2 linked regions of the Homo sapiens genome follow. The protein of the gene in region 1 interacts with the protein of each later gene in a pairwise test. Each region holds a gene or a part of one and is shown in the gene's direction. Other genes may lie near its edges.

Evidence for each region.
Region 2: the proteins of CPLX2 (region 1) and PTCHD1 interact in a two-hybrid assay, tested with the Homo sapiens proteins (one study listed by BioGRID and IntAct).

What each region holds. Positions count from the first base shown.
Region 1 is NC_000005.10:175,878,078-175,881,577, forward strand, and holds part of CPLX2 (complexin-2), read left to right. Parts: intron 1-574; 5' UTR 575-662; coding exon 663-693; intron 694-830; coding exon 831-1,006; intron 1,007-1,770; coding exon 1,771-1,968; 3' UTR 1,969-3,500. UniProt on the Homo sapiens protein: Negatively regulates the formation of synaptic vesicle clustering at active zone to the presynaptic membrane in postmitotic neurons.
Region 2 is NC_000023.11:23,383,077-23,387,106, forward strand, and holds part of PTCHD1 (patched domain-containing protein 1), read left to right. Parts: intron 1-4,030. UniProt on the Homo sapiens protein: Required for the development and function of the thalamic reticular nucleus (TRN), a part of the thalamus that is critical for thalamocortical transmission, generation of sleep rhythms, sensorimotor processing and attention. Can bind cholesterol in vitro.

The sequences.
Region 1 (3,500 bases):
TCAAAAGTCAGGATCTGTTTATCCAAGCTGGCTGTTCTCATTTGCTCAGCTGCCTCCGATTGGCTGGGGCAGTAACACCGGCTGGTCTTTTGATGGGCTGATCCAGTGGCCCAGGCTGGGCCCCCTCCAATCTCCGCCGGAGCCGGGGAAAGGTGGCATTGCCATTTCTCTCTTAGAGAGGAGGAAACTGGGGACTCGAGCAGGTTAGGGCCTTGCTGAAGGTCCCATGGCAAATAAGGAAATGACGGTGGCGTTGGAAACCAGATCTGCCTGACTCCAAGTTCCAGGCTCTTTCCAATGCTCCTGGCTTCAATCAAATCTGAACAATAGGGTCAAGATGAAGGCTTTAAAATAGGGACCAAACCGCTTTCAAAAAGCTATTTGGCAGCACCTACGTGTCTGCCCAGTAAATCGCTCTCTTCCATCTCCTTTCTCCTCCAGCAGGGCATTGGGTCTTGACCTCAGAGCGATGGGTGCCTGGTGTCTGAACCAGGGTGAGGCTGCTGTCTGCCTAGCTCCCCCGCCCTGCCTGTGCAGAGGCCTCTCCCATCTGACTCCCAATTCTCTTCTGCAGGTTGTCACATCTTCCCAAGCCAGGCCAGCCAGGAGCGCTGCATGCAAATTCTGCCGTGGGCTAAGGCACGCTAACCAGAGCCGGCGGCATGGACTTCGTCATGAAGCAGGCCCTTGGAGGTGAGGTCCAGCGCCCCTCCGCGTGTCCTCAGCCGGTCCCACCCTTGTGGGAGGTGGCCTCGGCCCACCCGGCCCCTCTCTCCCCAGCCCTGACCCCTAGCTGACCCCGCCCTCTCCTTCCCACCCCTTCCTCGTAGGGGCCACAAAGGACATGGGGAAGATGCTGGGGGGAGAGGAGGAGAAGGACCCCGACGCGCAGAAAAAGGAGGAGGAGCGGCAGGAGGCGCTGCGGCAGCAGGAGGAGGAGCGTAAGGCCAAGCACGCGCGCATGGAGGCGGAGCGGGAGAAGGTCCGGCAGCAGATCCGAGATAAGGTCAGCTCCGCCCGCCCGCCCGTCCTGGGGAGGGCCACAAGCGGGTAAAACCGGTCCAGCTAAAGCCCCTGCTGGGGCTCCCCTGGATCCCAGCTCTCACCTTCGCCCTAGTTCTGAGCCTCACTCTTCTCATCAGCAAAACGGGTATCACAAGGTCACCTCCCTCAAGGGATCCTTTTGGGGATTAAATAAGAGAATGCGCGTAGTAGGTACTCCAAGAGGGTGGACCCTACGGTCCACCATTTCGTACTGCAGATCTTTGGGACCAAAAATGAGTGCAGTTCTGAATTTGGGAATGTTCGAAAAATACCACAGTGTCCTAAGCACTTTGTGCTGTCAGCTGTCACTCCCAGCGGGTCTGGGGCTGCCACCCTACTCCAGACAGTCCAGTGCATGTCTGTTAGTGCGTGCAATAAATAAAGGCTAGAAGTAGTCTTCCATTGGTTCAAGTCAGATTCGTCACCAAAATTTGGCTCAAAATATATGGGCAAACGCCATGTGTTCAGATCTTTGGGGGTTTCAACACAGCAGGAAGTTCTGATGGGCAGGTGTTAATTTTAAAGGAAACCCCACGTATGGTCTCTCCCACTGAGGACCAGGCACCATCCTACAGGGAAGACACCCTTATCCCCACTTTACTAATGACAGGACTGAGGCTTGGGAGGCACTCCTGGCCACCTCAGCCAGTGCTGCATGATCATGAGACTCCTGCTGTCTCCTTGCCCACCCCGCTTCATGCGCGTCTCTGCCCTCCCCCTCCCCAGTATGGGCTGAAGAAGAAGGAGGAGAAGGAAGCAGAGGAGAAAGCAGCCCTGGAGCAGCCCTGCGAGGGGAGCCTGACCCGGCCCAAGAAGGCCATCCCTGCGGGCTGCGGGGACGAGGAGGAGGAGGAAGAGGAGAGCATCCTGGACACGGTGCTCAAATACCTGCCCGGGCCGCTGCAGGACATGTTCAAGAAGTAACCAGGCCTCCTGCCCCAGCCTACTCCACCTGTTACTACTTCTTTTTGGTTCTTTCTTTTCTTTTTATTAGGTTAAGTCTCAATTCTGAAGGGGAAAACCTCAGTTGGCCTCTGCCCCTCTTCCCTGGCCAGGGGCTTCTCCCCCTCAGCTCTCCCTCACACCTCCCTTCATCCCAGGGTATCCACCTGCACCCCACTCCCAAGTAGCTTGAAAAAGGGAGGACAGTCTTTCCCCAGCAGGGGTCAGGGGGGCCCCTCAGGAAGCCTAAGGTCGTGCTAGTGTGGTGACCCCCATACATTCCTCCCTGCTCCCCACTGCCAGGAGGACCACTGTCCCCAGCCAGCCAAAGTAATGACACATTCCAGCCCTGCCCAGCATGCTGACCTTTGGCCTCTAACCCTCAGTGGGCCCCCAGGTCAGGGCAGGGGCACTGAGTGGCCTGGCTCTGAGGAAGGGAGTCAGGGGAAGCCTGTCCCGGGAAGGCCCAGGCTGAGAGGCCCTGGCTCTGGCCAGGCTGGGATCTGGGTGGGAGGCTGGGGCTCTTCTTCTTCCATCTCCTTGGTGACACCCAGCCCAGGGGCACCCCCTTCCCCAGCCCCCACCTGGAGAGACATGGCCCCTGCCAAGCTGGTCCCTTCAAATGGATCCTTTGTGGACTTTAGCTCATTTGTGGAGGAACCCCAGGTAGGGACGCCCCTTGTTCCTCACCCCCACCCCACTTAGGTCCTGGGCCCCCACTGCCAGGCTGGGCCCAGCTTGCTCAGTCAAGGGGCTGCCAGGCCCCCAGAAAACACTTGGAGCCATCGGGTAGCGATGGTCTATGCCATGGGGAACACCTCCATTGGTGTGGCCAAGCTGCCCCCATTCCTATCCACCCCTCTCCCCACCCCGTCCTGTCCATGCGCTTCCAGGGCCCCACGGTCCCCAGGAGGACGCTTCCTGGCCAAAGCCCCAAGCCTTTGGTGAGAAGCCAATTCCCACTTGACAGAAGGCGTCCATCCATTCATCTCATTGGCCAAGGACAAACTCTCCTCTGGGACGTCTGGGACTGGCATTTGTCCCCCACTCAAATTATCAAAGCTTTCTGCTCAGTCAGTTGTGTGGGGATGGTGAGGGAAGAGGGGTCACATGAGGGAGGAAACTGTATCCATGCATGCATGATAATGCGTGGCAGAGACTGCAACAGGGATTGTGTGTTCAGAGATCATATGCATATGTGTAGGGCTGGAGCGTGTGTGTGTCTTGAGATTGTGTGTGTTGCAGTCATCATATCTATGTGTTACAGATTGTGTATGTTAGCCTTGTGTATGTGTGCTTGATTGAGGTGGTGTATTTGGGTTGAAATTGTGTCATATGTGTGTGCTATCCATCTCGTGTTTAGAGGCTGTATATGTTAGCTTGTGTAAGAATGTGTTTTCAAAACAGTGTGTGTATTGGGAGTGATGGGTATGTGTTAGGTATGTGATGGGTTGTAGAAGCGTGTGTTTGAGAGAATTCAGAGACATTTGAAGGCTGCTGTGTGCATGTTTGGG
Region 2 (4,030 bases), on another chromosome or scaffold:
AATGACCAAGAAGAAATGCAGTGCTAAGAGTTTTGGCACTACAGTAAACTGTCCAGTGTTTAAATTTTCCTGTGTATAACTTAAAATGGCTATGCTTAACCTAAGCAGATTTAAGCAAAACTTGATTTAGTATGTTATATAAATACAATATCAAATCAAAAAGTATATAGCCTCATTTAAAAGGTAAAGTATCTTAGAAAAAGTCTCAAACATGGACATTTCCTTGGCTATCAATAGGTCTATACTGTGATAAACATTATAGATTTAAAATTCAACAAACTGAACATTGTCAGTGTGATTCTGGTCACATAGGCCAAATCCAGCCAAATGCCAAAATGACACTAGATTTAGAATGGAAAATTTTAAGATCACATGTGTCAAGCAGTATTAACCTGACAAAATTCCAGAAGAGGAAAGAATTTGGATAAACTCTTAAGAGTTCACCATAATGGGATGTGACTGTGTGTTTCTAGCCAAGATGATATGTGACAGTTCTGGCAATAAGAATATATCCTACACAGATGAATCATTTTGGCAATGATGTAAGCATAGATACATCATGATTTAGAATGTTTTTAATCAGTGTTGTGCATACTAGACAATCCCACTTCTGCCAAAACCTCTGTCCAGATGAGTCATATCAGTTTATTTAGAGCTGAAATCCTAAAAGGTCTACAGCGTTATAAATGTTCATCGACATTTTTTAGTTACTCTAATTTGGAGAAGAGTTTATTTGGTCTATACCCTTATCGTGCATAAAATAATAACCCTTTCCAAATATATTGATATCAAGTAGTGAGTTACTTGAATTGCTACTTGTGAATATATGATGCTAATTATTTTAATCTGTGATGGAATTTCCTTTAAAGGATGAAGATTTACACCATTATTCTCCAGTTGGGTATGATTTTTAAAATTAGCATAGGTTTTCTGTGTGCAAGCTCTCCTTACAGGCTTAATGTTTCAACAGCTTTGCTGATCAGATACAAATCAGGAAAGGGATAGAATGTTAGATGATGTAGAAGGGAACCAAAAGAAAGTTTTCTCCCTTCTGCATCTGGAAGGTTTGTTGCTTCATGTACATCCTGTACAGCTAAAAAGGAGAATTGAAGTCGTAGTGAAAGAGTTCGGATATTAGTTTCTACATGCAATCTAGTTTATAAAGGTTGCTTTGCATTTATCAAGATACAAGAGCCCCAGAGATTTATGAGATAAAAAATACTCTTTAAGCCCTTTTTCAAATGTTTGGGATTTTGAGGTCAGATGTCAGATCCAGGGTGTTCTCTTCCTTTTGAATTATCCAACCAGGCCACTCAGATTCAAGGACGTGAAAGGAAGAAAGAATTAGTGGATTATTTCTAATTTGCGGATTAGTGCTAGGAAAAGAATAATAGCAGGGAAGTTTGGCTTCTTTTAGCTGTGCATTTTAACATTATTCATATGTAGCAGAAACCAGAAGATTGGGTTCCATTCTCCAAGAATTTGCTCTCATATGATGCCACTTGAAATATAATGCAGTATATGGAGCTCATAAAAAGGGAAGGAAAAAAAATTCTCATGCAAAACATTTAGTTCCAACTGAAACATTGAAATTCTTATTTTTTCTCTAAACTTAAGCAAACCTGAAAGAATTTGCTTTCCTGATGAGTATTCTGATACATTTCAAAAGTCATGAGAAAATGAGGGAAAAATCAGTCAGATAATAATAAAATTTAAACCATATGAAATTGCAAATATCCAACCATTTTTGGCCTACAAACTTGGTACCATTATCTGGTCATTTTTGAGCTACAAAAATGGTAATTTTGTGTGGTTCAGCCTAACACATTATTGTAGAAATCCATTATTTGCAACAATATGACAATTTTGCCTGATGGAGTAGAAGTATATTAGAATGCTATGGAAAGACTTTGCTTAGATATAAATCAGTAATAGGTTCAGCATGTTCTAGAGAAAACAACTGATTTATGAGGGTTTTGTTGTTCACATTTTTGTGTACATCTATTTTTTTAAAAGAGATCATTTATTTTACAGTATTTCCAAAGTTTGTCTCTCGAATATCGTTTTTTGTAATGGTCCATGGTCATTATGGGACTAATTTACAAGGAGATTATGTAATTTAGGCTTGTAATTCGTTCTTGCCCTTTTATTCTTATGCTCCACCAATCATATTAGGGTGAGAGTAGGTGGAAATAAATAGGTTTAGGGGAATGGAACAAAACAAGTTTTATTGTTCTATTTTTAACCATAAAGTAAGACAGGAACAGGACTTGGGGGCACAAGTCCAGGAAAGCAGAACTCAGTCAGAGGAATACAAAGGGGCTTTGTCTTTGACCCAGGATTCCCAGATATCCCCTGGGTGGTCTGTCTACCCGGTCGTGCCCAGGGAATGAGGGAGTGACAGACCCTGTAAAGGTTGGGCAGCAAGAGGCAACATCAGGACACTGAACTAAACATAGACCCTGGGGAGAAATACCTAGTATCTACATTTGGACTAAACTCTCAGAAAGTCACAGCTGGGCAGTCTTGACCAGATGGATATACAGAAGCTCACAACCGAAACAGGTTCACAGTTATTGTCAAGGAAACCCTGCATTTCACCAAGGCTACTTTATTACTCAAGAACCAAAATATAGACAGATGGAGCCCAACAGAGGGATTCTATAGCCCCTTCTCTACACTGATTGGTGTAGCAACACTAACATTATTTTGCCTCATCAGTAAAATAAATTTCACATCAGCCTACTATTCATCTTGTGTGTATGTGTGTCTTTATAGCCTATGTGCATAATATATATTATATATCACATTAGCTGTATTATATATCATATGCAATATGATATGTAGTAAGCTCATGTTATGTATTTATATGTATACAATGTGTTTATAACATATATTATGTAATATATATTGCTTGAATATTTAAATAGAAGCTATTCTCTGTGTATACTATCTGGTATATAGGAGTCCAACATTTTGTATGTAAATATATAAAATATATTTGAATAGGATATGCCATATATACATATGTTTATATATCACATTTGTATTCTATACGAAAAGAAATTAAGCAATGACCATAGCATATATTATGGGCCACATTTATACTTATACACACTGGTCTTATATAATGTACATACACACAATATCTAAATACTTTAAACAAGGAAGAGCTATAAGCAAATTCATTTCTAGGGCTCTCTTTTACAGCTATCTAGTGAAGAAAAATCATTCCTAAGACTAAAACCCAATGCTCTGGTTAGAATTTTCAAAATGTGACAAGTCTCTAGTACAAAGAATAAGATGTGTGTGTTCCCCCTGATGTGAGCATCTGTCTTTACTTAAACAGAGTACACCTTTATTCTTACTCTTAACTCTGAGACAAAACAGGCTGCAATAAACCAAACAATTCAGCTTGTAAAGTAAATGTTTATAACTGGCAAAGTGTAAATGTAACCCAATTAATAAACTTCTCCCTGAAAATAGATGTTACTCAACCCAGACATATATACACTTTAAATTTCTTCTCAAAAACACAAAAATCATGAATTTATGTGGATGACATTGAAAAACAGGCATCTTATAAACATGAGCTACTTAGTGAAGCTTTTCTAAGAATAAAATAGGCTTTAAGCAGATTTTGCTTATGGATTATAGTCTCTGAATTTTTGAGACGAATGTAGTAATTTTATTTCCATATATGAAATTTGGCACTGCCCAGGCATGCTATAAACAGCTTCATTGACTCATGATATTAAATGTTTTCACACTGAAACTGAAAGATCATCCATCAATCAGCAAGCCATCCCATTTCCTCCTTCTTAGCCATTCCTTACTTTGAGGAACTCAGGATGAGGAAATCCTGCTAGTGTGGAGAGGTTTAAAATGTGAGTAGCACCCAGCGGCATCTCTCAGCTGCTGTGTTGTGGCTATGTATACTGGGACAGGCGCGAAAATCTGGGACTGAAGAAAAATCTGACTTACAAAATCCAGAAGTATTATACAAAGTAGATCAATTTGCCTACGATTA